Regions from separate parts of the Homo sapiens genome. Here all the other regions are linked to region 1. Evidence: fine-mapped expression QTL. A gene starts in region 1. Each other region holds a variant in brackets. All regions are shown on one strand. Distances are from middle to middle. Region 1 holds the start of NCF4 (neutrophil cytosolic factor 4). Region 2 overlaps NCF4 (neutrophil cytosolic factor 4). Region 3 holds the start of LOC124900478 (a long non-coding RNA gene).

Region 1 (10,791 bases):
CTAGAGTGCTTGGGGTGGAAGCCATGGCGTGAGGCAGGGGGAGCCATGCAGGGAGGGCTTGGCAGCCTGTAACTGCCGGGAGTGGGGGCTATAAACTACATGAACAGTTTTCACTGGGGTTGAGATCAAATCACAGAACAGTGTCAGGGGCCCTGGAAGGAAGGAGAGTCAGCAGCTCTGCAGCAGCAGGACGGGAGTGGCCGCCTACCTGGGAGTGTGGGCAGGGTACAGGCCAGGGCACTGCTCTTGCTGTCTGGCCCGAAGCGCTCCTCCAGCTTGCTCTGCAAAGCATGGAACTGGCGGTAGCGGCGGTAGATGAGGTACTTGGATCCTCCTTTTGTCTTCACCTCGATGACGAAAACCTAAGGAGGACAGAGGTTGTGGGGAGGGCTCAGGGGCCAGGAGCACAAGCCAAAAAGAGGTGGAAGGGAAAAGGGGAGGAGGAGGAGGAGGAAGATGATGAGGATAAGGATGCAGAAGGGTCTCTGGAGAAGGAGACCCCTGTCAAGTCAAAAGGCTGGCGCCCCAGAAGCAGACGAGCTTTGCGAAAAAAAAAGAAAAGAAAAGAAAAAAAAAACTGGAAAAAGAGAGGAAGTGAGACCTAGTGTTAGAGGCAAGAGCCCTTGGAAATAGGCCAAACACACATTCAGGCCCAAGAAATGAGGAGCCATGCCTTGGAGGTCATGGTGCAGAGTGAACCTGCCCCTGGCTGTGCTGTGGGTGCAGGATGCCCCCTCCATCTGTGTCTGAATATGACAGGGGTGTTGTGGGGGCAACACTAAAGTCCCTCACCCCCGACTCTCCAGGTGGAGGTTCTGAGGTCAAAGGACGCGATCAGGATTTCTCAATCTTAGTATTATGCTGGGGCCGGACAGTTCTTTACTGGGGACAGGGCTGTCATGTGCACAGTGGGGTGTTTAGCAGCACCCTGGATTCTACCCACTAGATGTGGAGTAGACCTGCCCCAAGATGCAATAATCAGAATCTCCCAGGGTAATGTCAAATGGGCAAAATCGGTCCTGTTGAGAACCACTGAGATAGAAGTTAAGAGATCAGAGAATTGGAGGTTCAGAGGTCAGAGGGCAAGGTTCAGAGGTCAGCTGGGTGGAAGTTCAGAGGTTGTTGGGTGAAGGACTAGGAGTCTGTCTTACAAAGTGGCTGGTGAAGCCTCTCTTCTCCTCGATGTCAGCAATGTTGGCCGAGATGGCAACATCATCCGGAAGCTGTTCAAAGTCACTGTGCGAAGGAGGGGAAAAGAGATCCTGCTTATCACCCTGATGTGTTTTGTGGGCCCACCGGGTATGAGGTAGAGTGCAAAGCAAACTAATGTTGTGAAGCCAACATTCGTCTCTCAGCACCCCTTCCCAGGCCAGGTCCAGCCACTGACCCTGGGAATACGGAGATAACAAGACACAGCCCAGGCCTTGAGTGCAGGAATGGGAAGCTGGCGGCCATACTGAGTGCAGGAATGGGAAGCTGGTGGCCATATTGAGTGTAGGAATGGGAAGCTGGTGACCATATAGCAATAGCCAAATTATAGTCTAACACATTGCTGTCAATTGCACAGATTCACCTGGGAATAAGGCATCAAACATCTCCATACCAGGCCCTGTCCTAGGCCCTGGGTCACAGATGTAAACAAAGTCAACATGTGCCCTGGATGGAGCTGCTCAGTTCAGGGAACCGCAGGTTGCTGAGCATGGCTGGAGCACAGAGCAGGAGGTGGAACGTGATGAGAGACCAGTCGGAGAGACAGGCAGGGCCCGCTCACGAGGTGCCTTGATGCCTCGCAGAGGGACCTCGAGTTTTCCCTGGGGTGGTGGGGGCTGAGGAAGGAGTCAAGCAGGACAGACATTGGCAGATGCTCGAGGCATAGGCGCAGCACTGGGGACAAGAAGATCAAGCTCCCTTGGGAAGATTCCTAGCTGTGCTCCGCTCCTTCCCTCCTCTGTAAAATGGGGACAGGAGAAGTACTTATGTCTCCGGGTGGTCATGCAGTCCCATCTGTAACAAACACAGCCCTAAAATCTCCATGAGGGCAAGGACTCTGCTCACCCTACATCCCAGTGCCCAGAACAGAGCCCGGCATACAGTAGGTGCTCAGTACTGCTCAATACACGGCCACTACCGTCGTCTGCAATTATAGAGTTTTTTGATGGGCAGCATGAGAATGGCCTGGCTGCCTGTGGGGCGGGCAAGAAGAGCAGCAAACCCAACCGGAAGTCCCCTGGAATATCCGCTCCCTTGGGGACCTCACCCAGGCCCTACTGGGCCGGGATGTTCTGGCTCAAGACACACTCGCACAGTTCACAGACTTTGGAGCCTGGCCTGGGGGAGGTTTTGGAGCCTGCCCTGGGGGAGGCCGAGGTTGGAAGAACCCTTGGAGGGCAGCCAGGGCAGGTTTTCTGGCACCTGGCACATAGTAGGTGCTCAAAACATGTCTGTTGGAACCGAACTTGCCACCCCTAAGGCAGCCCTCCCCATCTTTGGATGTCTCACCTTGGGGTTCTAGAAAGTCCCCGCTGCGCGAACCTGCGCCCTCTCCTTGTACTCTCTGCTTTGACCTTAAGCAGAACAATCCAGGCTCGCTTTCAGATAAGACCTTCGAGGTACAGGGAGCCCCCATGCCCCTAGTACCTGGCTCAAGGCCTCATGAAAAGCAGTCCCTCCCCCTCTGAGGGCTAAGGCAGCTGAAAGGGGACAGGGAGTGGGGGAGGGAGTGCACAGTCCTGCTGGTCAGCTCTCCGTGTCATCCCCTGAACCCTGTACCCCAGAAAGCAGGAAGTGCCCAAGCCTCAAACAGCTGCTGCTTCCGGAAGATTCGAGTTTGCGTGCGGCTGGGTCCCCCAGGAGCATGTGAGGGGAGGAAGGAATTCAGGTCGGCCAGCCTTACCCAGCTCCTGCACCCCGCTCTGAGGCTCAGGAAGGCCACGTGGACTCCCCTGTAGGCATTTGCTTCTGCTGCCCTTGCCCCAACCCACGCTTCAGGTTCTACTTCCAGCCCCAGGCCCCAACATGGGCCTTCTGTTCCCCGCGTAGGCACACACCAGCCTGGCCTGTCTCTGGTGACCCCCTGAGTGGCCTCCACGTAGGTAACAGAGGTCACCTGCTGTTCCAATCCAGGGGGTGCAGGGGCCAGGCTTTGCGTCCTCAGGGCCCCCGCAGCTTAGAGCTCAGACCTGGCTACTGAGGAAAAATTCTGAAAATGCTTCCCAAGCGACGAGGCTAGATGCTGGTGAGGCCGTGCTCCAAGCCCCAACCTTGCCAGTCACTCTCTGTGACCCTGAGTAAGTCTCTTATCCTCCCTGGGCCTCAGATTTCCAATCTGTACAATGGCAAGGTTGGACTAGAAGAATCTAAGACCTTTTCCGTCTCAAAGATCCACCCATTCATTCATTCATTTATTCATTCATTCAGCAACATTTATTGAGCCCTTGGTCCTGGTGCTCAATAGGGATGAGCTACCTCCTAGTGATACAGCAGCGATCAAAACGGACACAGCCTCGTGGAGCTTGCTTCTCATGGGGGAGCCAACGTTCAAGAAAAAATAATAAATGAGCATATAATATTATTCCTGTAATATAAGAACCAGGCAGAAAAGGGAAATAGGGCAAAGGGTCAGACAGCAATGAGGTAGGGGCTGTCAGGAAGGCTTCTTGGAGGAGGTGACATTTGAGGCAAGCCCTGATTAGCGGAAGAACAAGCCAGATTCTGTGAATTCTGTTTGCGCAGAAGATGGAAAGTCATTGCTGATCACCATGTGAAGCAAAGGGCCCCAGCCTGGGACCCAGGACACCTGCATTCCTCTCCAGACACTGCCGGTCACTCGTTGTGTGACCGTGGGCAAGTCACTCCCACTCTTGGAGCCTCAGTGTTCTCATTTGTGTCTGAGGGTGGTGAGCCACAGCTCAAAGTTTCGTTAAAGCAGTTCTGAGAGGTTGCATTTCTGAGTATTTGGGTTCTGACTCAACCCCAGCCTCTCATGTTGATCAGGGACTGCAGAAGGACTGGCCTTTGTCCCTAAGGCCTATGAGGAGCAGTGAGAAGGCCCGGGGGCGGCCACACCCCGGCACTCACCTCTCGGCCCGCAGCTGCTGGGCCACAGCCATGGTGGGCGATGGTCCCAGGGAGCAGGTGGAGAGTCTCGCCCAGCCAGTCCCAGGCTGAGTTCACCTCTCACTTCCTCCAGCCACCCTGCGTCTCGTCTCAGCCTGTGGTCCTGGGAGTCCCCAGGAGCTGCCTTTGGGGAGGCTCAGGCCTGCTTCTCTCCAGTCTGGCAGAGGCTCCTCCTCCAGGCTCTCTGGGCCTAGCCTGTGGCCCACACTTCCTCTTACCTCACCTCCCAGCTGCACAGAAATTGAGGAAGTGGACCCTCGGGTGCCAGGTTTGCAGGAATCCACTTCCTTGATGTCAGTCCTTGGCGCCAAGCCTCAGTTGGGTATCAGAAGCCTTGCTCCATCAGAGATGGGGTCCCAGCCATCAGGGTGTCTTGTGACCTTGAGGAGTCACTTATCCTCTGGCCCATCAAGCCCCACCTTTATTCTCTTACTGCCAAGCCTTTGCCCAAACTCTTCCCCAGGCCTAGAATGCTGGCCTCCATTTTCCTGTGATCTCTTAGGCCCAGAGTAAATGCCACCTCCTCCAGGAAGCCCTCCTGGTTCCTCTGGCCTCTGTCTTCCTAGAGTGTGAAGTTTGGTTTGCGCGCCCTGGCACTCTGGGATATCCTTTCCTCATCCTTAGATCTCCATGCCCAGCCAATCCTCTTTCACAGGGCTGCCAATCAGAGTGAGTTTCACCCTCCCTGCTTAAACTCTCCTGCCCCATCACCCTGTGCTCAGGATAAAGTCCAGAGTCCTTGCCCTGCCTGCCTCCAATGCCCCTGAGGCCCTGCAGCCTTCCCCAGCCTCTGCTCCTGAGCTCCCTTTTTCTCACTGGCCTCCTTTCCGTTTCTAGAATGTTCTAAGACGTCCGCCCCAAGGCCTATGCTCATGGTGTTCCCTCTGCTGGAAAAAGCTCTTCACTGCCTCCTTTGCATCTCAGCTTAGAAGCTACATCTTTAGCGAGGCCTTCCCTGACCACACACCCTAAATTAAGGCCCTCCCTACTACATTCTCTCACAGGTCCCTGCACGTCTACTGCAGAGCACTCATAACTATTGTCATCTCACATTTGTTTGTTTATCTGTATGTTTAATGACTGCCTCCTTGGCTAGCAGCGTGCCTGGCACATTGCAAGTGCTCAACCAATATTCAGTGAATGAATGAAACGCTGCCAGTCAGTGACTGCAGCTCCTAACAGGTATGGGTATTTGATTCTGAAGGGACTTCTCTGAGAAGAGGTCCACAGGAGTCATTGGCACAGCCACACCCAGTAACTCCCTGCCAGCTACACACGCTCACACACTCGTATTCATACATGCAGAGCAGAAAGTTGTTTTAAACTACTTTAAACATACAAGTCCCAGCTAAAAAAAACAAGAAAGCATAATTTTTAGGTAGGATCAAAGAGAGGGGTCAGGAATCTATACCAGGGGGAGAGGAACGTGGCCAACAGCCCATGGGAAAACCAAGATTGGATATGCATTGTTGGGCTGAGATTTTAATGCCAAATCTGGGACTAGGTACAGGCCACAGGTCCTGCTGTTAGCAGAAAGTCAAATCTGAGTTCTCAGTGTAAAGTGGGTGTCAGAACTGATTATGGGAACAGAGTTTCTCAGCCATCAGCCTAGAGTCACGGCAGGAGCTGAGGTCCTCTCACAGTCCATGGGTGGAACAAGGGACGTGTGTACCAGATCAGCCTCAAGCCTGCCCTCTGCACTGGTGTAAGGCCCCGATATAAGCTACCCACGTGGTGCAGAAATCCTAAGCTGAGGCATTATATAAAAACAGCTTGGAGTCAGTGACTCTGCAGGGCCTACTCTGTCAACTCACAGACCAAAACTACAAATCGTGAGCTGTGAAAGACAGCTCAGAGCCTCCACATCATGAAGAATTCACACCCAAAGAACTAGAAATAATACAAACAATAAGTCTGATGAGTTGCTGGTGTCTCGGGGCTCCCAGGCTAGAGGATGAAATGAAACACAGAGCAGGGTTATTAGTGCAGGTGTCTGTAAGTACCAACAGGTGCAAGCACACAGCCATAACTGAGGGAAGAGGAGGACATTGGCCTACAGTTGGTCAGGAAGGACAGGAAGTGGCAAAACAATTTTAGCAAGCAAGCATGATACAGAATTTGTAGGTGATTGTGTAAACTGTGTGTGTAGTATATGCCTATAGTTGGAAACACATATTTGTGTATAAACACATACAGCTCGCATAGGCAAGTGTAAGTGCATTTGTGTTGTGTCTATAAAAGACCATATAATGTGTATAGTGGTGGCATTGTGGCTGTGAGAGAATGTGTTTAGATGTTTAGGTTGCAGTCGGTGACAAATGAGTATAAACACAAGTACATTTATAATAGGTGAACTCAGGCAAGATAACATGTCCTTTTTGAACCTTTCTTCTTCACCAATCTGTGAAACAGTCTTGCCTAATGGAGTTGTAGTAGGAATTAATAGAAAACTGTATAAAAGTGCCTAGACACATGGACATTTCTTATTCCTTTTTTAATCGTTTTCAGTGTGTATATCTGTATGTGTGTGTTTCAGGTGGGTTAAGCCCTCAAGTTTACCTTCCCAGGTATTTTCATGGCTTGCCCTCCAAACCCCGGCCCCCCCAACCCCCCAAGAAACCTCCTGTGGCCCTGACTCAGCCACTGGGAAGCCACCTCTGCACCTGGGGGACAAAGATGTCCAGGGAAGAGCCCGCGACGGGCCAGCTCTTCCCCTCCTCCCCTCTTTCTCTCCTTTTCTTCTGTCCCTGCCCGTGGTTCTGCTGAATACAGGTATTTCTCTGTCTCCTCATACACAGAACGCTGCTGCCAATTTTATGCCCGAGCTCTGATACAGTGTAATTTGAGGCCAGGCACTCTGTCAGCAATGGGCTCCTGTCCTGCCGCTGCAGCAATGCCTGTACCTTCTACTCCCACTCCAGAACCGGGCTCTTGCTGCTCCTGCTGCAGGGGGAGAATGAGGCAGAGGGATGACCTGGAAGAGGAGCCAAGCTCTTCACACGTTCCATTAAACAAGTATGGATGGAATCTTTTTTGGATAAGTGCAAAGAAATGCCTGAAGTGACCTCTCACTTATGGAGACCTGATTTTTGATAACCTCCACATCCCACAGCCTGTGAATAAACCAAAAAAAGAGAAAAGCCATTGAATGGTTAGAATTGATAGCTCAAAGTCTATGCATTGACACTGGCATATTTTATTCACAGAAGAAATATAAAAGGAGCCTGGTCCTCTCTTCCTGCCAACTCAAGAACTTGAAGCAGTGAGTTAGGGGAAGGAAGAAAATTACCAGGGGCAGCCAAATGCAAGCGACAGTTCAGTGACAGCCTGACAATGATAAAGACCATGGAATACCAAAAAATATATATGTTCTCAAGAACTCAAAAAACAAATACCAGAGGCCATTCAGAGAAGGGCATCTCTGCATAACACCACTTACTAATGCCCATTCATAATCACATCTCCAGGAAAAAGTCTAATACACCAAGACCATGCCTGGGGGATCCCCAGAGCCTGAATGGGGACTGGATGTGCGAATCACAAAAGTGCACAGCACTTTTCAGTCCTTCCTCATGCAGGTGCTGGGGTATACAAGATAAACCATAGCCCCCATTTTGGACATGAGGAAACTCTCCTTTGAGCAGCCAGCGGCTGGGGCTGAGAGCTCCAGCCATAGGAACTGGAACTCTGTGATAGGGAGGAGGTGAGCCTCTTCTACAGGACCAGGAGATACCCTTGAGAGCTCATTATAGGTACTCAGCAAATCCCCACTGCCTACATCAGCCACTCTCCAGGGTAAGAGAAGGAAAATCCCTGATTGGACAGTGTAAGATTCCTGGGGATCCCTCACACACTGAATTCCCCAATCTTGACCCACATGTGTCTCCCTTTATAATTTATGAGGGGAACTTCACTGGACCTCCTCCCTGAGCCATAAATAGCCATCCCTGGCATGCCACCCAGGCAGGGAGGGTGTAGACGTGGCCAATTAGACAGCAAACTCCCTGAAGGCAGAGGGTCTTCTCTTCTCTGAGAAGCCCTGGCACACGGCTGAGCTGGGTCTAAACCTCGTGTGCCCTCGCTGTGTCACGCATTAGTTGTGCAAACTCTCCGACCATTGTTCAGTTTTCTAAATGGAGATAATATTTGCCTCTACATTATTAATTGGAGAGAAAAATTGCAGGATTATTGTATTATTCATTTCCAAATGTGTTGAGAACCTACTATGTGCCAGACACCCACTGTGTGCTAGGCCCTAAATGAAACACAGACACTGTTCTTGAGACACGCACTTACTAGAGGTGTGTTAACTAAGGGAATGAATACCAGATGTTTAGGACAGTGGCTCGCGCATAGCAGGTGGTCAATAAATTCTAGACGTTAATGTTATTGACGATCATTCCTTGCTGTGGCTTGGTCCCTCCCTTTTCTGTCTCCCTCTGCTGCACAGCTTGGTCCTCTCTGTCATACAACTAACGTTACATTCTAACTTTTTCCCGCAATCTGTCATCCGCTCTCATCACGCGGGGGCACCGGGACGCGCACTTCCCTGGCGGAACCGGCTCTGCGCTTAATCTAAATGTTGACGGGAACAGACCGCCAGGGGGCGCCGCGATCAGCAGCCGAGTCCCCGCTCCGCAGCGCCACCTAGAGGAGGTTGAATGCTATAAGCCGCACTAGAAGGACCCGGCCAAGTCGAGAGTCAAGTTGCAGCTGGCCAGGCAGAGCGCGCAGCCTGCTGGCTCAGACAACCTCTCCAGACAGCCCTATCAGCCAGAATCTGAGCTGCACTCAGGGGAAGCTTCCCCCAGGGGCTAAGAATCCTGAATCTCCTCTCCACCATCATAAATACGGTAACAGCCAAGTCACTCTGAGAGTTGACTGTGTAACCACCCCTACACCGTGAAATTGCCAGGAGGAGCACGAGAGCTAGCATTTGCAAAGCCCTTAGTACAGTGCCTGGCCCACAGCCTGGCTTGGTCCATGTTGGCTCTGATTGTTGTTACCTAATCCTCACACCAACCCCCATAAAATAGTGGTATTCTTATCCCCACCGGGAGATAAGGAAACCCAGGCTTTACGGGATTAGGAAAATAAACCAAAGCGGCTTGCTTAATGACCGGCAGAGTAAGATTTGGACCTCACATCAGTCTGGCTTCAAGACCCACACTTAATAACTGCTGTACTGGCCCTCATTCATTCATTTATTCACTCCACAAGCATTCATCTAGTATCACTCTGCACCAGGTAGAAAGGATATTGAGATGAATTCAGCACAACTGCTGCCCTCAGGTAGCTCACACTGCTGTTGAGGTACATAAATAAACACACATGCACAACACAGGCACATATACACATGCACACGCAGGCACACATACACATGCACAAACATGTATAAACACATACACATGCATGCACACACAGGCATATATACACATGCACACGCAGGCACATATACACATACACATGTACATATACACATGCACACATAGGCATGTACACAGAGACACATACATATACACATGTACATGTACACCTGCACACACATGCATGTACACACAGGCATATAGAAATGCACATACATGCATGCACACACATGCAAATATACACGTGCATGCATACCCATGCTCAAACATGTACACACATACAGAATCAAGTACAATTTGGGGAAAACCAAGAGATACATGTTTCACATCCAGTTTCTCTGATTCCATCTCCAGTGCTGTCTTTGGTCCCCAGAGGTTATGGACACAAATGTCTACAGCGGCCTGGCAGGTAGCCTGGAGGTTTCAGATGGATCCGGGGGTGGAAAGGCAATGGCAGTAGGCTATAGTCTAGCGTCTGCCTTTCGTTAACCTTACATTCTGGGACAGAACTCCAAACTCTACATTTGAACCTGGCCTTCCAGTTTATCATGAAGGTACATTTATCAAAGAAGGATAGAACTTACTTTTTAGCAGTTGATTGGCTTGATTCCTAACTGTACATATTTAGAATCGTGGTACATGGGCCTCTGTCCCATTGCTCTAGGCCCTCCAAATGTCAGGGTCAGTGAGCAGGACAGATAGGCTTGTAAGTCATGGTGATTCTCAGGATTTCATTCAAAGAGGAAAGAGAAACCATTCAAGTGTTTTAAACAAGGAGTGATATGATTGAATTTATGTTTTTATAAGATGCCTTGGTCCACTACTTGGATATGGGCTTGCAAGAGGGTGGCATTAGAAACAAGGGGAGGAAGCACCACTTCTAACAGCGTTCTACTTCAATTTTTAAAAAATCAGCTTTATCAAGGTGCAATTCACACACAGTAAAACTTACCAACTGAAAGTATACAATTCCATGGGTTTGGACAGTTGTGTAACCAGCACCACAATCATTATATAGGACATTTCCATTATCTCAAAAGATCCCTCAGGACACTTTGCAGCCAATCTCCTTCCCCTACCCCCAGGCCCTGGCAATGACTGATCCACTTTCTATCACAGTATTTTGCCATTTCTGAAATTTCGGACAAAACCACAGAGTATGTGATCTTTTGTGCCTGTTTTTTTTCACATAGTATAACGCTTTTGAAATTCATGAGTGTTGATATGTACATCGGTATTCATTCTTTTTATTGTCAAGTAGTATTTTATTGTATGGATATAACATAAGTTGTTTTCCATGCACAAGTTC
Region 2 (10,791 bases), 23 kb before region 1:
CAAGAAGATTATTCTGGCTGCATAGATGAGTTGGGAAATAGTCTATCTTCTATTTTCTGGAAGATTTTTTTGTAATGTTAGCATAATCTGCTGTTCTAACGTTTGGTAGAACTTGCCCATAAAACTGTATGTGCCTGGGGAGGCAACATTTCAACTTCAATGTATTTAATAGTTAAAGGAAAATTCAGTCTCTCTATTCTCTTGATTTTTTAAACCAAATTATACTATTCTAAGTATTTGTTTAACCTAAATTTTAAAATTTAGAATATAAAGCTTTTGACGAAATTCTCAGTGTATTTTAAACCTCTGTTTCATCTATAATTATGGTTCATTTACATTCCTAATACTATTTTTTCTTCTTTCTTTTTATCTTCATCAGTTTTACCATAGTCTTTCCTAAGAACCCAATTTTGGCTTTGTTGACCTTTTCTATTGTATTTTTTGTTGTTGGTTGTGGTGATCTTGAGTTCTGGCCTTATCTTTATGTCTTTACTTCTCTCCTTGAGCTAATTCTATTGTTTGTTTGTTTTTGTTTTTTTACTTCTGATTTTGGAAGTTTAGCTTGTTAATTTTCAGCTATTTTTCTTTTATGTACTTTCTGTATTGTTATATTTGACTATTAAAAGTGTTTTTTTAAGCCTGTATATGCAAAGTGACCTGCAAACATAGGAGCCAGGATACCAAAGAAGGAAGCAGACGAATCCAGCTTGTTATAGGATGGTTTTATTTGGGAACTTAGGGACTGAAGGATGGTCTTGGGCAGCTGTGAGACAGGTAGATCTCTACACTATTATCCCCCAGACCCAGGGATTATACACCATAAAGAAAGGGTAGCACGCTTAATTTGATCTAAAGGCAGGATTTATGGTAGGCATATGTTCTCACACAAAGAACAATAGATAAAATGGAAATCTTAGCGGCATTCCCAGAACCGGGGTTAATCAGAAGTCAACATGGTGGATTAGCTTCCAAGATGGAGTCACTTTAGCCTCCTCACTGTGACTCCTACACCTTTATTTCCCTCGCTGTTTATTTTGGGAAATGTCTCTCTGCTGCCTTAATGTGTCCCCTCAGGAGAATGCTGCAGATGCTGGAGCAGTGAGCAGCAGCCTCCCTGTCCTGGGGTTATTGTTCTCACTTACTTTCTTGTAACACTCTAGTGCAGTGAAAACTACCATCATCTCTTGAACAAACTTTCTCTTTATTTCATGGGCTACAAGGAAGAGATAAAATGCTGTATCACTACACACCACAGGTGTTAGGCCTTATACCTGACGACGCATGATGTTCTGTGGAGGTGGTTTTACCAGACGTAAACAGGATGCTTCAGTTTGAGAAACCTCACCCTTGTTATCTGTTGATTTTGATTCACTCCCTTAGCTTGTCTAGGTCTCTAAAACTGAAGGACATGAAAGACAAATGAATCTGCACAAAACGTGCAAGGATACTTTAAAAAGAAAAAGAAAAAAAAGTGTTTTTTTAAAGTCCTCACATGGCCAAGCATGGTGGTTCACAACTGTAATCCCAGCAGTTTGGGAGGCCGAGGTGGGTGGATCACTTGAGGTCAGGAGTTCAAGACCAGCCTGACCAACATGGTGAAACCCCATCTCCACTGAAAATACAAAAATTAGCTGGGTGTGGTAGTGCATCCCTATAATCCCAGCTACTTGGGAGGCTGAGGCAGGAGAATCGCTTGAACGCGGGAGGCAGAAGTTGCAGTGAGCCGAGATTGTGCCACTGCACTCCAGCCTAGGCGACAGAGCAAGACTCCAACTCAAAAAAACCCCCAAAAACAAACAAACAAAAAATAAAATCCTCACATGTTTAAAAATTTTAAAACACACTTCTAAGTAACTGATAGCTCAGATAATATCCTAATTGAATTTAAATAGTAGTTACAATCAAATGACAATAGGGCATATGAAAACTTGTGGCATATACAAAGTGATATTTTTTAGAAATTTGAACCATTTGACCCTCCTTGTGCCACTGAGCCAATAGGTGGAGAAAGAGGTGGAGAAAGGTGGATCATCTGAGGTCAGGAGTTCAAGACCAGCCTGGCCAACATGGTGAAACCCCGTTTCCACTAAAAATACAACAAAAAAAAAATTAGCTGGACTTGGTGCTGGGTGTCTGTAATCCCAGCTACTTGGGAGGCTGAGGCAGAAGAATCACTTGAACCCGGGAGGCAGAGATTGCAGTGAGCTGAAATTGTGCCACTGCACTCAAGCCTGGGCAACAAGAGCAAAACTCCATCTCAAAAAAAAAAAAAAAAAAAAAAAAAAAAAAGAAAAAAAAAAGAAAAGAAAAGAAAAAAGAAAGGAGGTAGACAGGACTATGTGTGGTCCCACCGTGATTCACATAGGTGCCTCTCAGTATTTTCTTACCCAATAGTCCTGGTCAATGGAATACTGAGGCAATCTGATAAAGACAAGTCTAACGAGAACTCAGATCCCATAGGAATGAAGTCTTGAGTTGCTCCACCACATAAAGACCCTTATTTGACCCATGTACTGGCAGAGGAAAGAGGAACATGAAATGAACACTGGGAACAGGTAGCTCAAAATATCAGCTTTGGACCTGTGACCAGCTGCGGATGCAGGGGCTCTAACAGCCATGCGTATATTACTTCATTCATCATGCCTCCACTGCTTTATATAAAGAATACCCGTAGCAGCTCACACTTTGGGTTTCAGGTGGGAGTATGTCTGTATGGATATGATCCTAAAATGCCAAAATAGCTGATGGGAATTCCTGTGTTCCCTGTCTTGGGAACATGGAGTTTTCACTTGGCTGAAGGATAAGCGTATATAATGAGGGGCAAAACGGGTGGAGGATGCCAGATATCTTCATTTTTCCCCACTCACATCTACACTGTGCTCTCTTCCGCCCTGCTGTCTACCTTGGGAAGCTAACCTGTGTGGATTACAACAGCCTGGCCCTAGGGCTTCCAGTTTTGTTTGGCAGTAGGGAACCCCTCCCCTGAGATCAGAATGGGGAAGGAGAGGAGGGCGGGGTATTTGTTCCTCTGATCGCCTCCCAGCGGGGTTACTTTGGGTCAATCTCGCCCACCAGTCAAAGATCACCAGTCCTTCTAAGGAGGCCATGTCTACACAATCCCCTCCTTCCAGGTTTTGTAGACACTCCTTCCCTTTATTCCTTTGGGCTCAGGAATGTAACAGGTCTGAGGTCCTATCCCTGGGATATTGAACTATTCCTTGAGGTTTTCCTGTGTGTTGTCTACGTCTTTGTAAACAGTCCCTTTATTAAACACACCTTGAATTATCTTAACTTGAGGATGCCAGATATTCCCTCCTGGACATCTCATGATGTACCAGGAACAGGGTCCCCAAACCAAGAAGCACACTGCAATCAATTGCCTTTTTAATGACTTCTTCCAGCATCCTATTCCATGAGATGCCTACTTGAGAAGCCTGTTTCTAATTGGGTAATTTTCCATTATCTCCTGCTCACCATTAATTGAGAATTGCTCAAGGCCCATAATTAACTAATTAAATATTCACCATATTTTTAATGGGAATGTTTTACTCTGTGTTAATTGTGTAGTCATTATCATCACAGTAACCCTTATCTGTATTTGTTAGCAACTTCCCCACTATGCAAAGAATGAACAATAGCTGAATCACGGTGTTTGACATTTCTTTGGTATCAGTTTTTCTCAGTTATTTCCACTTTTAGCTGATAAACTTTTTGTGCAAGAATGAAGTCTTACATCATCATTTTCTCATAAGTCACAAAAATTCTCCAAAACCTTTATGTACAGACTTGTTTGCAAGCATCAGTATAGTCAGAATCTGTGTCAAATGTGTTAATGTATAATCAGCATCATTCCAAACACTGTCAATTGTGTACATGACATTCTTAACACTGGACTCTTTCGGGAGCCATGGAATCTTAGGTTCTGTGATGGTAGCAAGAGCACAGCCTGAAAAAAAGTGTTTACCCTTCCTCTAAACTTCTTTGCACTTAGGCTAAAATGCACATATCCCCCAAGGGGAAATAAAAGCTGAAACTGCTTTTCCACAAGATGTTTAGGGAGGGAGTATGCATAGCAGTTTCCTAGGAATGATAACATCTAACAATTGTTTTTTCCAAGCTAGAATCCCTGCAATGAGTTTGTACCGCTGGTATAAAAATGTTATTAATCAGTCAGAAAATATTTCTCTGGTTACTCATGGTGTCTAGTATGTGTACTGACAGACGGTAAATTGGATACATCCTACAAAGATGGTGGATGTAGGCTTTTTCCAGTTACTGTCAAATGTATCTGGTGTGTTCCTGTAGCACATGGTACGCCAAGAACAGTCAACAGGGTGTAAGCAATTGGTGGGTCCTCATCAGCCATTCTGCAGAGCAGACTGAAGCCCACTGCCAATTGATCAGAGCCAAGGTTTTCATCAGATACCGTTACTTAACAAATCCACCCATGCAATTTTCATCAGCTTCATTATCAGCAAAAGCTTTTCACTTCTGATTTTGACGGGTTCTTACTTGAGCTGTACATAAAATCAAAATTCATCCCCCCAAAAGCATCAAAAAATAAGGGAATAGCAGAGACACATATGGCTGGTAAGCGTTAACTATTCAGCTCAGGGTCAAGGAGTGCTACCAAGTGAGTTTGAGTACCAAGTTTACACAAAAGTAGATTGTGAATCTGTATAGACGTCCCAGCTGTCTTCTGGTTAGTGGTTTCCAGGAATATCTTTTTTCATACTTTTTTTTTAATTTCAATGTTTCCATGACGTTTTACCTTATGTGTGTCTCTTGTACATATGACACTTACATAGATTTAGATTTTTAAAAATTCAATCTGACAGTCTTTTTTTTTTTTTTTTTGACGGAGTCTCACTCTCTCGCTTAGGTTGGAGTGCAGTGGTGCGATCTCGGCTCACTGTAACCTCCGCCTCCCGAGTTCAAGCGATTCCCCTGCCTCAGCCTCCTGAGTAGCTGGGATTACAGGTGTGCACCACCACGCCCGGCTAATTTTTTAGTGTTTTTAGTAGAGACGGCATTTCACCATATTGGCCAGGCTGGTCTCAAACTCCTGACCTCGTGATCTGCCAGCCTCTACCTCCCAAAGTGCTGGGGTTACAGGCATGAGCCGCTGTGCCCGGCCCTGACAGTCTTTTAACTCATGCATGGAATCCATCTATGTTTATGGTATCAGAATTATTGATAAATTTGGACTTTTTACCAACTCACCCATTGAATAATATATATGTGTGTATACACACACACACACGCACACACATAGATGCGTTCATACCTTCTTTCTTTTACACATCTGAAAATTTGCCATCTCATTCTTTTTTGCTTGTTTATCTTTATGGTTACATTCTTTATTTCTTTAAATATTTCAGTCACATAATTCGGTAATCGGTAGTCCCTGGGGCTCTAAAGCTATTGTTTATTGCCTCTGCTCATTCTCACTCACAGAGATTTGGTGATCTTTGACTATGAGCCTTTTGCTTGATATTAATCAGGGTAACTCCTGCCAGCCTAAACTGGAAATACTTTACTCCAGAGGAGACCCTCTTCCGCTTCTGCTTGAAGCCAGGAATGCCACTCTCTCCAGATCACCTCAGCTCTCACATCTAGGGCCTTGGCCTGGCACGGAAGCCCCTGGCGCAGCCTCCCTATCTCATGGCCTCCCCATGGCTCTGCCTTCTGGACTGCCTCTGCACTCCAGAAAACAACACCCCAACTGCTCTGTATTCTGGTTTCAGCTCCTATCATAGTTTTTTTGGTGGGGAGTGGAAGAATCATTGGAGAACTCCTTTGCTTCTTGTGAGGCTCATAATTCCTCAAAGCCTGTGTCCTAGCTGAGGTCTGGTTGTTTTGTGGCAGAAAATTTTCTTGGTGAATGTGGTCAGGCAACAAACTAGAAGCCAAATAACTGGGTTTGGGAGATCACACCTTGCAAGGTCTTTTAAAATTTTTCTTAAATGGATATTTTCTAGTGTACTGTTGTGGTTCAAATTGTATTCTCCCCCAAAAGATATGTTGAATTTCTAACCCCAGTATCTCAGAATGCAGTGATCTTACATGAGATAGAGTCTTAGCTGGGTGCAGTGGCTCACACCTATAATCCCAGCACTTTGGGAGGCTGGGGCATGTGGATCACCTGAGGTCGGGAGTTGAAGACCAGCCTGACCAACATGGAGAAACCCCATCTCTACTAAAAATACAAAATTAACCAGGCGTGGTGGTGCACGCCTGTAATCCCAGCTACTCAGGAGGCTGAGGCAGGGGAATTGCTGGAACCCAGGAGGCAGAGGTTGCAGTGAGCTGAGATCACACCATTGCACTCCAGTCTGGGTAACAAGAGTGAAACGCCATCTCAAAAAAAAAAAAAAAAA[AAT/T]AGAGTCTTTACAGAGCTAATCAAGTTAAAATGAAGCCATTAGAGTGAACTTCCTTTAATATTTTTTTGTAATGGCAAGTCTGCTTAACAATGAATATTCTCAGTTTTTGCTTATTTTGGAATGTTTTAATTTCACCTTCATTTTTGAGTGGTAGATTTGTTTTATGTAAGATTCTTGGTTGACAGGAAATCAGCTGTTAGTCTTAATGTAGTTCCCTTTTATGCGGTGAGTCATTTTTCTCTTTCTGCTTTCAAGATTTTCTCTTTATGTCTGGCTTTCAACATTTTGACTATGATGTGTTTAAGTGTGGCTTTCTTTGTATTTTACTACTTGGAGTTTGTTGAGCTTTTTGGATATGTAGATTGGTGGTTTTTTAAAAAATAAAAATTGGAAAGTTTCCAATCATTATTTCTTTTCATCCTTTTTCTGTCTCCTTCTCTCCTCTCTTTCTGGTAATCTCATTATGCATATGTTGGTACACTTCATGGGTCCCACATTTCTCTGATGCTCTGCTCATTTTTCTTCACTCCTTTTTCTTTATTTCTTTCTTAAGATTGCATCATCTCTATTGATCTATCTCTCAGTTTGCTTATACTTTCTCTGCTAACATTCTTTTGCCAACTCAAATCTACTGCTGAGCCTTTCTAGTGGACTTTTCATTTCAGTTATTGTTCTTTTCAACTCTAGAATTTCAATTTGGTTCTCTTTTAAAAAATTATTTATGTCTTTGTATTGATATTCTCTATTTGAAGAGTCATTGTTACAATACTTTCTTTTAATTCTTTAAACATGGTTTCCTTTAGTTATTTAAACATATTCCTAATATAAAGTCATTGTTTGCTAAGTCCAGCATCTGAATCCTTCCCTCAAAGGCAATTTTTTTAGTTTCCTTTGCCTGCTTTTATTTGCCTCCTGTGTATGGATTACACTTTGCTGTGTCTTTGCAATTCTTATAATTTTTTGTTGGGAACTATATTTGCCTGTTCTTGCACTGCTATAAAGAAATACCAGCTGGGTGCAGTGGTTCATGACTGTAATCTCAGCACTCTGGGAAGCCGAGGCAGGTGGATCACCTGAGGTCAGGAGTTCGCGACTAGCCTGGCCAGCATGGCAAAACCCCATCTCTACTGAAAGTACAAAAATTAGCTGGGCAAGGTTGGGGGTGCCTGTAATCCCAGCTACGCAGGAGGCTGAGGCAGGGGAATCACTTGAACCTGGGAGGCAGAGGTTGCAGTGAGCCGAGATCATGCCACTGCACTCCAGCCTGGACAACAAGAGCAAGACTCAGTCTCAAAACAACAACAACAACAACAACAACAACAAAAAACAAACAAAAAAACAAAAAAACACCTGAGACTGCATAATTTATAAGGAAAAGAGGTTTAGTTAGCTCTTGGTTCTACAGGCTATACAAGAAGCCTAGTGGCTTCTGCTTCTGAGGAGGCCTCAGGAAACCTTACAATGATGGTGGAAGATGAAGGGGAAGCGGGCAAGTTTTAAATGGCAAGAGCAGGGGAAGAGAGAGAGAAAGAGGAGGTGCCACATACTTTTAAATGGCCAGATCTCACTCACCATCGCAAGAACAGCACGGAGGGAATGGCACTAAACTATTTATGAGAATCCACCCCCATGATCCAACCACCTCCCATAAGGGTCCACTTTCAACCTGGGGATTATAATTAGACATTAGATTTGGGCAGGGACACAGATCCAAACCATATCAGGAACTGAACATTTTAGATTATATTTTGAAGCAACTCTAGATGCTGCTCTCCTATTCCCTCTAGGGCTTAATGTTTTTGTTATTTGGTTTGTTATCTGTTTACTTGTTTAGTGGCTTCACTGAACTAATTTTGTGAGGGCCGTTTCCCCTACAATGTGTAGCTTATGATGCCCCCGCTCGTATTTTTTCCTCTTGTGTTTTTTTTTTTTTTTTTCTCTCTTATCCTGGTTTCCTAGAGGTTGCACCTGGGTCTGCATAAACCACCTATTGGTGAAAAGTTGTGCTGAAGCCCCCTCAATTAGATTGGTTTCACCCCTTACTTTTGGCCGTGAATGTGGTTTGAAGACATCTTTTACAGTACAGGGTTCAAACTTGCCCCATGTTCAGTCAGAAACTGATAGCCCAGCGTTTCTTTCTCCAGTCACTCCTGAGAGTGATCGGCCTGGGCGTGCACGCAGTCTTCCAGACCACCAGGAAATGAGTGTAATTTTATTTTTAAGCCTGCCTTCCTAAGAATCCCCTCTGTGTCAGATTAGCTTATTGTTCAGCCATTGCTTGGTCAGAGGTTATGCTTCAGCCTCTTGAGCTAGCGTGTTTTGCTGATGGATCTGTATGTGGTTTAGGGAATGATTTCAAGTCTGCCACACTTTCCACTCTGATTTCTGCTGTGTGGGTGCAGCCTGGCACGAGAGCACAATCTTTTGAGTCCTCAGGGATGACTGTAGTCCTAGAACCACTATTCTTCGTTATTTCTTTATCTGGTTCTCTGTTAAATTTCTGGCCTTACATTTCTCTTGATGGCATTAGTATCTAGCCCCTCCTTAATTGCCGGCCACCAAGATTTCCATTATTTTTGCCAACTTCTTCGGCATGCTTCCCAAATAAAGTTAGTCCCCTCAGGAAAAGCTGTGGAATTCTCCATCCCTAAGGCCTGACTCTCTCCCTGGGCAGAACCTCTGCACCACTGCATCAGAGCTGGGGATGGGGAAATCAGCCTGCTTCTCCAGGAGTGATGTCCTGTTCTGTGAGTGGGCACTGGAGTGGAGGACGGTATCCCTTGATCTCAGATTGCCCCTCTCAGCATGGAACCCCTGCTCTACCAGAGGGTTAAGGTTCAGCATTCTTAGCCTGCTACGCCTATTGCAGAGCCCTTGCCCTAGGAGGGGGAGCTGAGTGGGTAAAGGGAGTGTCATGGGTTGAAGTGTTATGTTGGAATTAAAAATGACATGTTGAAGTCCTAACCCCTAGTACTCCAGAATGTGACCTTATTTGGAAAGAGGAGGTTTATAGAGGTAATCAAGGTAAAAGAAGATCACTAGGATGGGCCCTAGTCCAATATGACTTGTGTCCTTATACAAGGGGGAATTTGGATGCAGAGACAGACATGCACAGAGGGAAGACACTGTAAATACACACAGGTAGAATGCCATGTGAAGACAGAGTGATCCATCAACAAGCTAAGGAGCACCAAACATTGCCGGCAAACCACCAGAAGCTAAGAAAAGGCAAGGAAGGATTTCCCTACATATTTCACAGGGAGCATGGCCCTGTGGACACCTAGCATTCAGAACTGTGAGACAATCGATTTCTGTTGCTTAAGCTCAATTTCCTGGTACTTTGTATGGGAACTGCAGGAAACTCAGTCCTCTCTGCTGTAATGACCTGGAATAGTGCTTCTACAACACAGGGCTGCAGAGAGAAGAGATTCTGGCAGCCTGTTCCTCCTGGGGTGAAACTGTGGAAGGTTAGGAGCTGAGGGATGAGGGAGCCCATCTTCCTGGCTGCATCCATCCAGAGTGGAGGATCTGGAGTGGAATTTCCATCACATGGAGCTGGGGGTGGGGGGACGGGAACACGATGTGTCTCCAATGCCACCGACTCACTGTTCTTACTGAGACGTAATGATCTACTTGAACGACTGTCTCTCCATGTGCTCTGTGCCCTTAGAACAATTTCCAGAGACTTTAAACAGTTGATTTTAAGTATTTCTCATCAGTTAAACTGCTGTTTCCCTGGGGAGAGGGTCCACCAAGCTCCTCACACCACCATTGTGGGAGTCACACCTGTTTAATTTTTGGTAGATTAGGATAGAAGGAGATTCAGCTCAGAGAAGGAGATCCCGTTGCTTTGTGTCCCCCTCCTCCTGGATGAGACTAGAGTCCTCCCCCTGTGTCTACTTACAGTGGAGACAACCAACCCCGAGACCTGCCTTCCTCCTCCACAGAGCAGCAGAGACAGGAAGGCAGAGGAGAGCTTCTGACCCTCATCACACAGCCGAGGACTTGGCATTGGTGGAACCCCAGAGGGCACCCAGAGCAGATCACTTCTGTGGGGCAGGTGGCCAATCCCAGGAAAAGGGGAGCAGTGGGAGGGAGAAAGGGTATGGCTTGGGGACCCTCGGGTTTCCCCCCAACACAGGGACAGAGCAAGGAAATGGGGTGGCAGGACAGGGGTCTCAGAGCCAGGGCCCCTGCCAGATATAAATGACGCCCTGTGGATGCTCATTAAATGGTATTTTACTCCCCATGAAAGACACTCTTTCCCGCAGCCTGCCCCTTTCAGATGGAATGGTTTATTTAAATCAGATGTAAATAGTAGAAAGAGACAGATTACAAGCCCCACGGGTCCATTAGCCTCAAAGACAGGAAGTCTGCCCATCCTCCCAGGTTTTCCTGGTCCCAATCT
Region 3 (10,791 bases), 94 kb before region 1:
GGGTTCAAGGAAGCCAAGTGGGACCATCCAAGACAGAAAGAATGCTGGGGACAGGACATTAGCTCAGACCCTTTATGTCCCCTGAGTACCCTCTCCATGCCAGCACCGTGATTTCACACACATGCAGGGGTGCCAAAGAGAGCTCAGGGTCCCCAGGGCGCCCCAGGCATTCCCTGAACACCCTCCAATCCTCCACTCCAGGAAAGACTTTCCCCACCAGGGAAGGGCATCCTACACTGTTCCCAGCCAGGTCCCCTTCCTGGCAGGCAGTAATTCAAGAATCATCAAGGCAGAATGTCAGTGGTTCCCACCATTCCCTCTCCTCCTCCCTGACCTTCTCCCCAACACAGGAAAAAGACAGGAAGAAAAGGTAGACACCAATCTCTGAATTCTAAACATCAGGACTCAATGTGCCCATCTCTGTGGCTTACACAGGGCACCCAGTCTTTATGTCACCAAGTGAGTTTCCTCAGTCTGTGTGCACAGCCTCATACCTGGCTGGATAGAACCAGAGATGCAAAGTAGAAAAGCATAGGCTCTGGAGCTTCTATCCTCAAGAAGTTGCTCATCTATCCATCCATCCATCCACTCATCCATCCATCCATCCATCCATCCATCCATCCATCCATCCACCCATCCATCCACCCACTCATCCATCCATCCATCCCTCCATCCATCCATCCACCCACCCACTCATCCATCCATCCATCCATGCATTCATTCCAATACCTTCCAATACCCAAATTTTCCAACACACAATTTCAAGTGCTAACTCTGTGCCAGGACATGTGCAAATAACCAGGGAGAGAGATATGAATCAGGTGTGTTTGTGGGGGGTTGGGGGTGGGCATGAACACTGAGCACTCCAGGACTGTATGGGAAGAAGGGACAGGGCAAAATAGGAACCAAGGAAAATACAAGTGATTTAGCTAACTCCGATCATCGGTTTCCATGTGACAGGCATTATTTCACTTGGTTCCTTCAAAATCATTTTGAGGTTTGTAGATGACCATCTCCAAGTAACAGATGACAGTTTTGGGGCTTGGAGAAGTAACATGCAGATAATTTGCACAAGGTCTCACTCTTAGCAATACTAGAGGTGGGAGTCCAACCCGGGTCTGTCTGGCTCTGGGCTCACACCAGCTGTGGTTATTGGAGCCACTCCCATCTGTATCCCCATGAGGAGTCAGGGAAGGCTGCATGGAGGAGGCCCTGCGTTAGCTGAGGCTTGAATGATGAATGGGAGTTTATAGTAATATTTTTCAGATTTATTCTGTGTTTAATTTAGATAATTTCAATTACTATATTTTCAAATTCACTAATATTAAGCCAATTCAATGACATTTTCTTTTCATATGTTGTACTTTTATCTGTGGCAGTTTTATTTGTTTTTATTTTGACATCTTCCACTTCTGTTATGTTCATGTTTTTGAAAAATTATTCGGCCTATTCATAATAACTGTTTCAAAGTCCTTGTCTGCCAGTTCCATAATGAGCTGCATCATTTTGGGGTTCTATCTTTGACGGATTTTTCTCTTGTTATGAGTTACATTTTCTTCCTTCTTTCTACATGTAGTAATTTTTTTTTTTTTTTTAGATGGGGTCTCACTGTCATCCAGGTTGGAGTGCAGGGGCACGATTTCAGCTCACTGCAACCTCCACCTGCCAGGCCCAAGTGATCCTCCCACCTCAGCCTCCCGAGTTGCTGGGACTACAGGTGCACACCACCATGCCTAGCTAATTTTAAATTTTATTTTATTTTTTGCAGAGACAAGGTCTCACCATGTTGTGCAGGCTGGTCTCAGACTCCTGGGCTCAAGCAATCCTCCCGCCTCGGCCTTCCAAAGTGCTGGGATTACAGGTGTGAGCCATTGCACCTGGCCTACATCTGGTAATTTTTGATTGGATGCTGAGCATTGTTTATTTTATGTTGGTGACTGCTGCATTGTATTGTCTTTCTTCAAAAAGTGTTGGACTTTATTCTGATGAGTCATTAAGTTACTTGCAGATCAGTGACATAGTTTGGATATTTGTCCCCACCCAAGTCTCATATTGAAATGTAATCCCCAATCTTGGAGGTGGGGCCTGGTGGGAGGTGTTTGGATCATGGTCGGGGGGATACCTCCTGAATGGCTTGGACCATCCCCTTGGTGATGAGTGAGCTCTTGCTCTGAGTTCACAGGAGATCCAGTCATTTAAAAGAGTGTGGCACCAGCCAGGCATGGTGGCTCATGCCTGTAATCCCAGCACTTTGGGAGGCGGAGGCAGGCAGATCATCTGAGGCTAGGAGTTTGAGACCAGCCTGGCCAACATGGTGAAACCCCGTCTCTACTGAAAATAGAAATATTAGCCAGGTGTGGTGGTGTGCGCCTGTAATCCCAGCTACTTGGGAGGCTGAGGCAGGAGAATAGCTTGAACCAGGGAGGTGGATGTTGCAGTGAGCTGAGATCGTGCCACTGCACTCCAACCTGGCAACAGAGCGAGACTCCGTCTCAAAAATAATAATAAAAACATAAAAAAAAACTAAAATAAATGTGTGTGGCAGCTGCCTCTGCACTAGTGCTCTCTCTCTCTCTCTCTCTCTCTCTCTCTCACTTGTACCAGCTTTCACTGTGTGACGTGCCTTCTCTCTTCACCTTCTGCCATGATTGTAAGCTTCCTGAGGCCTCCCCAAGAAACGAAGCAGATGCCGGTGCCATGCTTCCTGTACAGCCTGCAGAGCTGTAAGCTAATTAAACCTCTTTTCTTTATAAATTACCCAGTCTAAGGCATTCATTGATTTACAGCAATATGAGAATGACCTAATATGGAAAATATCCTACTCTCAGTGCCAATTTTCTGTATTAGGTCATTTTCATGCTGTCATAAAGAAACACCCAGGACCAGGTAATTTATAAAGAAAAGAGGTTTAATTGGCTCACAGTTCTGCAGGCTGTACAGGAAGCATGGTGCTGGCATCTGCTCAGCTTTTGGGGAGGCCTCAGGAAGCTTCCAATTGTGGCAGAAGGTGAAGGGAGAGCAGGCACGTCACAATGAAAGCAGGAACGAGAGAAAGAGAGAGAGAGATCAGCGTAGGGGTAGGTACCACACACTTTTAAATGACCAGATCTCCTGTGAACTCAGAGTGAGAGCTCACTCATCCCCAAGGGGATGGCCCAAGCCATTCACGAGGGATCCCCCAACCATGATCCAAACACCTCCACCAGGCCCCACCCCCAACATCGGGGATTACATTTCAACATGAGATTTGGATGGGGACAAAAATCCAAACCATATCAATCAGTTTGATCTTTTAAGGTTTGTTTTTAAGCTTCCTTAGAGGACTTTTATTATTATTATTATTATTATTATTATTATTATTATTATTGAGATGGAGTCTTACTTTGTTGCCCAGGCTGGAGCGCAGTGGTGCAATCTCTGCTTACTGCAATCTCCGCCTCCTGGATTCATGCAATTCTCCTGCCTCAGTCTCCCAAATAGCTGGGATTAGAGGCACCTGCCACCACGCCTAGCTAATTTTTGTATTTTTAGTAGAGATGGGGTTTCACCACGTTGGCCAGGCTGGTCTCGAACTCCTGACCTCAAGTGATCCACCCGCCTTGACCTCTCAAAGTGCTGGGATTACAGGCATGAGCCACCATGCTGGCCTAGAGCAGTTTTAGAATGGCCCTCTCCTGGGCTGGTTTAGTGCTGGCACTAAGGTGTTTTTCTTCTTGGTTCTCTACTGAATGTGTGAGGTGTTCAGTAAGAATTCCTATTCTGGCTTGTTGGAACTTGAACATCTCCCAGACCTTGGTGAGTTCTGGAAATTGTTCAGATACATCTCTCTGTGTACTATTTACACAGTCTAGTGGAGCTCCACCCCACACATGCATGGTTTAGTGTGCAGCAGTACATGCAAGAGGATCTCTGTGTAGATTTGCTGGGTCTCTTTCTCTGTGCAGCTCTTTCTTCTCTTGTTTTCTACACCAAATTCCAGCTTCTTTTGCCTCTTCAGACTCAGACCCCTATCGCCCAACACAGCAAGACTGCCATGGTCATGTTGGAGTTCTTTTACCTACGTCACAGTCAAGAAAGTGGTAGAAAGGTAGAAAAAGGTAGGCACGGTGGTTTATGCTTGTAATTCCAGCACTTTGGGAGGCCGAGGTGGGAGGATCACCTGAGGTCAGGAGTTCATGACTAGCCTGACCAACATGAAGAAACCCCCGTCTCAACTAAAAATACAAAATTAGTTGGGTGTGGTGGCGAGTGCCTGTAATTCCAGTTACTCGGGAAGCTGAGGCTGGAGAATCACTTGAACCCGGGAGGCGGAGGTTGCGGTGAGCCGAGATCACGCCGCTGCACTCCAGCCTGGACAACAAGAGCGAAACTCCCTCTCAGAAAAAAAAAAAAAAAAAGAAAAAGAAAAGAAAGGTAGGATGATCATAGGACCTACCGTGTTTGTTTTCACTCTCTGAGCGATCATATAGAAGGACTCCTCTTTTCTAACAGCTGAAAACAGATTTTTAATATCGTTTGTCCAGTTTTATACTTCTAAAGTAGAAGGCTATACCTGGTCCTAGTTACTCCATTATGGCCAGAAGCAGAAGCCTCTTCTCCCTCTGCCCATGCCTGTCTTTTGCCCCTCCTCCTCCACTTGGAGCCATTTGGCCCATTTGGGTGTTGACTTTGATGCAAGTCAGGGGTGCCTGCATTGGCGTCTGTGCATGTGGTTGTGGGTGTGTGTGTTTGTATAGTGCCTGGGTATACGTGAGTCCTTAAGGTGGAAGTGGGGCATGGGAATGGGGTGCAGGGGAAGTGGGCTGTGGGAATGGGGTCCAGTGGAAGTGGGGTGTAGGAATGGGGTGCAGGGGAAGTGGGGGATGGGAATGGGGTGCAGGGGAAGTGGGGCATGGGAATGGGGT[G/A]CAGGGGAAGTAGAGGTGTGACGGAAGTGGAGAGGTGTGAAATAGCTTCTTGGGAAGGGCAGAGTTCCTCCTTGCTGCTGGGAAGTGTCATTTGGGGTTCTGGCAGCGTTAAGAGCCTCCCCACAACCCCCGCCTCCGATGGTAATCCTGAATTTAAGTGAGACCAGCTGGTGTGGTTTTGTTCAGCTGAGCATGGCCAGGGCAGGAAGACTGAGAGTTCACCATTTTCTGTACCGAGAAGCCCTGCTGCCTCCTCAGGAACTCCATTCCTATCCTGTCCTCCTTCCTGGCTCGTTCCCAGCATCCTCAAGGTCTTGTCAGCGCCCTCGTAGGGTGGTCAGGTCCCATCAGGGTTGTCTGAGCATGTGTGTGCAGGTATGTGTAGGTGTGTATGTGGGTGTGTGAGTGGGTGGAGGCTTGCGTGTTTCATGGTTTCAGAAGTGTTGAGAAAGAAGAAAAGAAGACCTCTGTCTTTTCTTCTGACATCACAAAGGGCAAGAAACTAAGAAATGCCTCAGGCTCCTGCAGAGAAGAAGGGATGGGCAGTAACAGCTTGGGGCAGGTGAGGAAGGATGGTGGAGTGTTTGGTGTTGAGTGAGGTGGCCCAAAGGGAGTCTGTGCATCCTCAAGACCTGGGAGGAGACAGGCTCCATCTGTGGTGGGTGGATCCACAAAGCTTATCTGCCAAAATCACTTGAAGAGCTTAACGCAGCCCACTTGGGCATCAACCCAGTAGCACCCAATACAAACACACAGAATCTACACCAGCACTGCGGGGAAGGGTGAGAGTGGCAGAGGAGGAGATCCACACTAGGTGGAGAAGGCGCAGGACCAGGCTCCCCGTACCCCCAACATGGCCTTCTCCCTCCTCATCGGCCATATCCCTGGGAAGACGAGAGGGGTGGATGGGCCTTATCCTGGCCCACATCTCCTTTCTCAAGACCTGGGGTAGGATGGCAATTCATGGATGGAGGAATAACAAGACCTGGTGAGATCAGCTTGGCCTGGCTCCCAGCTGGGCAGGAACACAGGACTCCAGGGCATGGAAGACCCCACCCCAGCCCATGGCCAGCATCCACCTGTGCCAGCACCTGCCTGTCCAGAGCTGACCAGGAAAATGGTGCTGGCCTGGGAGCTGCTCCTCATGGCCCTGCTGGCCCTGTGCTGGGGACTTAGCCTGGCAGGGGCAGAAGGTGAGTTCCGTGGCTCCCACCCCTTCCCTGCCCCCTCCTCACTGCTGCACCCTGGAGGAGGCCCGCACCATACCCCCAGGACCCTGCCCACCCACCCTCCTCCTGCTCCCCTTGCTTCGTCTCTTCCCCGGCCTTCCCTGGGCTTCCTTCACTTCCCTCCTCCTGCACATTCCTGCTCATCCTGTCCTGGAAAGTCCAGCTGAGTGTGTCTGGGTTCCCAGCCCATATTTCTCAGCACGGCACTCCAGGCCCCCAGGCTCCAGGGTGGCTGCTCTGACCGTTTCCCTTCTCCTCCTTCCCCAGCAGACACTCGCTGCACCTCAGTGGTTCCACCTCCAGACCTTTGCTCCAGCAGCGTCCTGGCTTGGGGTTCATCTCAAGGCTGGGTTGATGCCTGGGGGTCTGGGGGGCAGGGCCTGTCGCTGCTGCGTGTCTCCATTCTGCAGGGATTGCACGGTGCTTCTGTCAGGAGAGGAGGGTCCACAGGCAGAAGCTCACCCTGGCAGACCCCCTTCCCAACCCAGGGCACCTCTGCCCCAGATCAGCTGGGGGTGGTGGTGATAAGGGACCCTGCAGGGGAGAGAGGTGACCCCTTCCTGCCCCTCTTGTCAGAAACCGTCCTGCTGCAGACCCTGCGCTGCTACAGTGACTATACCAGCCACATCACCTGCGGGTGGGCAGACACCCAGGATGCCCAGCGGCTCGTCAACGTGACCCTCATTCGCCGGGTGAATGAGTCTGTGACGTTGGGTGCAGGGGCCACGGGTAGGGGCTACGGTGTCCCCTCTGCCTGGCGTGGGATGGTGGTGTAGAGAGGGATGTGTCAGGTCAGCCTCGGGGTGGGAGTAGACAGAGGACAGAGGAGGACGGAGGCCCTCCCGGGAGCTCCTGCTCAGCCAGGCACCTGCCAGGCACTACTGTCTGATCTGGGGTTTCTGGGGAGCACGTTCTACACTGATGTCGTTGAGGATGGTGCTGGTAACAATGGTGACAATCTTCTCTTATTTTGTCACAATTTAACACAGTTGCCCCACATGACCTATCTTAGTTCCTCCTCACTGCGAGGTGGGCAGGGCCAGGCCACGACGCCCAGTTCACAGATGGGGAAACTGAGGCCCTGGAGGTGAGGCGCCAGCCCTGGCCACAGATGGGGAGTGGCAGAACAGGCCGTGTGGACGTGTTTGGGAGGGGGCTCCATGCTCTCCCAGGCTCCTCCTCTGCATGTGGGCTGCCACCTCTCCCACCCGAGCTCTCCTGGGCACGAACCACACAGGAAGGGGACCGGCATTGCTCTGCGGTGTTGGCCAGGGTCTGAATCAGCCTTAAATGAAATAATTAAGCCACTGGAACCAGAGAGGCAGGTGACAACTGATTGGAGGTCTCCCCACCTAGAGGGGGAGGGGGCCCCAGCTCTGCCACCCCCCACCCCTCCACCACCTTCAGTTCTCCTGGGGAGCTCCATCAGACCTTCTCCATTCTCCTCAAATACCATCCTGCCCCTCCCTGTGATCTGCTTCCTGTTGCTCTGACATAACAGGGGACCAGGGAGAAGCTCCCCACCCACCCCACACTCACACTCCCCACCCCCTCTGCCCACCACTGGGGCCTGGGCCTGGGCCTGGTTCTGGGCTGGGGCTCCTGTCTAAGGCTAGAGACCCGATGCAGTCTGGCCCTGTTGCTCAGGAACATCACGGCCCCCAAGTCCCCACTCTTCCCTGTGTCACCCACCGTGCCCTCTCCCAGGATCTTTCCCAATCGCCTTGCAAACCTGCCCCAACCCCCTCACAGATGCCCACAGGAGTGCAGCGCCTGGGCATCTCCTGAGCTCACAACCCTGCGGTCCCCCTTTCTCTGCTTCCCTTGACAGCAGCAACCCCATAAAGAGTTGTCCACGCTCATCATGTCCAGTGTCTTTCCAGCCATTTCTTCCTGAGCCCACTTCCCCAGGATGTTGCCCCCATCAGGCCACCCAAACTGCTCTGGTTCAAGTCAGCAAACATCCCAGGAGCAGAATCTCATGGTTGGGCCTCCGCCTTCTTCCTACTTGACCAGGGGCAGCCCCTGACAAGGAGGACCACCGCGGCCTCCCTGCAGTTCCTCCTGCACCTGACTCTGCCCACAGCTCACCCAGCACCCCCAGGGCCCTGCCCATCCTCCTCTTTCTCCTTGTCTGCTGCCTCTTTGTTCTCTCGGCTGCCAAGGGTGAAACGCCCCAGGCCCAGTCCATGGACCTCCTCTCTGCTGTATCCACTCTGCAGAGACCACCTCCAGCCATGAGGGCATCTCCCAAAGGCGACCTTGAGCCCACACTTCCCCTAAGCTCCAGCCCTCCAGGCGCACTGGCGTCTCCACCTGTCACTTAGACAACAGGCATCTCCGACTACAAAGGTCCTCAACCAAAGTCCCCCTCTCACCCGAGTGGCTCTGCTGCCTCTGTCTTCCCCATCTCCCTTTGCTAAATGGGAGCTCCTAGTGGCTCAAACTAAACAACAGGGAGGATTTTGTTTTGTTTTTAAGTCTCTTTTGCCACCATTCCTTTCCGACTGCAGCATCCGATCCACCAAAGAATGCCGCTAACCTTATCTCAAGCAGAACGCAAATTCACCCACAACAGCCCCACTGCCCTGGTGCACACCACTTCCTGTCCCCTGGATATTCCAGAAGCTTCCTAACAGGGTTCCCTGCTTGCAACATTGCCACATTCCCACCTCAGTCTGTTCACAACCGAGGACCCTCAGGAATCCTTTCAAAGCATTCATCAAAATCTGCAACGCCTTTGCTCATGACTGTTTCCCACTCACTAGCAGTGAGATCCAATCCCGATCCAAGACCCGGAGGCTTCTTCAGTGAGCGGTGAGCACTCAATGAACCTTTGCAGAGTGAGTGATCCCCATGCACAGTGGGCTAAGCTGTGTCCTCTCCCAGCAGAGACCCTCCGGAGCCCATGTCCTGCTACCTCAGCGATGACATGCTCTGGTCAGCCTGCCCCTGTCCCCACTGTGTGCCCAGGAGATGTGTCATTCCCTACCAGAGTTTTGTCATCAGTGACATTGACTACTTCTCATTCCAGCCAGACGGGCCTCTGGGCACCTGGCTCACTGTCACTCTGACCCAGCATGGTGAGGGACAGGGGGCCTTGGCTGGGGCCTGGTCCCCTGTGTGAACCGCCCTCCTGTGGTTTCTATTTCTAGAAGGAAACAATGTTGCAACAAATATTTATGTACCTATAGTTTTGGGTATGGGTCCAAGTATTTCTAGAAGCATAATAGTAAAGTCAAAAGGTGTACGTTTTTCATTTTGCTAGATATTGTCCAAGAAACAACTTCCCACTAAAATGATCAAGAGAATGAGAAGTCAAGACAAAGAGTGGGAGAACATGTTTGCAAAAGACATAACTTTCGGATAAAGGACTGTTACCCAAATTATTCAAAGAATTCTTAAAACTCAACAATAAGGGCCGGGTGTGGTGGCTCATGCCTGTAATCCCAGCACTTTGGGAGGCTGAGATAGGAGGATCACCTGAGTCGAGACCCTATCTCTACAACAAAATTAAAAAAAAAAAAACAATGAGAAAATGAACAACCCAATTAAAGACCAGAGTAGACACTTCATCAAAGAAGACATACAGATGTGAAAAGAGCGTATGAAAAGGTGCTCAGCATCATGCATCATTAGGGAATTGCAAATTAAAACGACAAAAAGATACCGCTACACACCGGTTAGAATGGCCAAAATCCAGAACACGGACAGCACCAAATGCTGGTCAGGGTGTGGAGCAGCAAGAACTCTCATTCATTGCTGATGGGGATGCAAAATGGTACAGCCACCTTGGAAGACAATTTTGCAGTTTCTTATAAAAGTAAACATACTCTAACCATATGATCAGCAATTGTACTCCTTGGTATTTACTCCCATGAGTTGAAAACATATCCACATAAAAACCTGCACATAGATGCTTATAGCAACCTTAACCGACAAAACTTGGAAGCAAAAAAGATGTCCTTCAGTAGGAGAATGGATAAATAAATTATGATACACCCAGACAATGGAATACTATGTAGCACTGAAAAGAAATGAGCTATCAGCCATGAAAGGACACGGAGGAAACTTAGCTGGATATTACTAAATGAAAACAGTGACTCTGAATAGGCTACATACTGTATGATTTCAACTGCATGACATTCTGGAAAAGGCAAAACTATGGAGAGAGAAAAAGGATCAGTGGTTGCCAGAGGGTAGAGTGAGGGAGGGAAGAAAAAGTGGAGCACAGAGGGTTTTTAGGGCAGTGAAACTATTCTGTGCCATGTTATAATGCTGGATACCTGTCAAGATGTATTCATGTAAACTATAGCCCTTGAGTGATAATTATGTATCAACATAGGTTTATCAGTTGTAACAAATGTACCACTGTTGCCATGGATTGAATGTTTATATCCCTTCAAATTAGTGCGTTGAAATCCTTTTTGCTTTTTTTTTTAGTTTCTTTTTTTCTAAGTTCATGTCAGATAGGTAATATGCCCACATGGTAGCTGACAGAGCAGAAGCATCACCATCTTGGACAAGCACTGCCATTCTAAAGTTCCCCTTGATCAAAAATTGCCTAAATCCAAAGGTCATCAGCCTAATGACTAAGGTCAGCATGACCATAAGCCACAAATGACATCTCCGACCAGAAACATTTCAACCATAAGATA

Evidence for each region.
Region 2: its variant is fine-mapped to the expression of NCF4 in whole blood (INTERVAL, PIP 0.98).
Region 3: its variant is fine-mapped to the expression of NCF4 in whole blood (TOPMed, PIP 0.94).

Annotation. Positions count from the first base shown.
Region 1 is chr22:36,854,490-36,865,280 of GRCh38, reverse strand. NCF4 (neutrophil cytosolic factor 4) reads right to left here and starts at 4,275. Exons shown (of 10, transcript NM_000631.5): 1 at 4,078-4,275; 2 at 1,152-1,236; 3 at 209-362. The coding sequence starts at 4,109. All of the region lies in intron 1 of NCF4-AS1 (NCF4 antisense RNA 1), which reads left to right.
Region 2 is chr22:36,877,883-36,888,673 of GRCh38, reverse strand. It overlaps NCF4 (neutrophil cytosolic factor 4), which reads right to left. Exons shown (of 10, transcript NM_000631.5): 10 at 10,659-10,791. It overlaps LOC105373022 (a long non-coding RNA gene), which reads left to right. Exons shown (of 2, transcript XR_938229.2): 2 at 1-646. Among named protein-coding and RNA genes, the nearest start is that of NCF4-AS1, 13 kb to the right of the region's middle. RefSeq lists a silencer at 9,512-9,704. The variant AAT/T (reference allele first, on the strand shown) is at 6,381.
Region 3 is chr22:36,948,954-36,959,744 of GRCh38, reverse strand. LOC124900478 (a long non-coding RNA gene) reads left to right here and starts at 5,085. Exons shown (of 3, transcript XR_007068091.1): 1 at 5,085-6,097; 2 at 8,647-8,950; 3 at 9,402-10,791. It also overlaps the pseudogene CSF2RBP1. The variant G/A (reference allele first, on the strand shown) is at 4,905.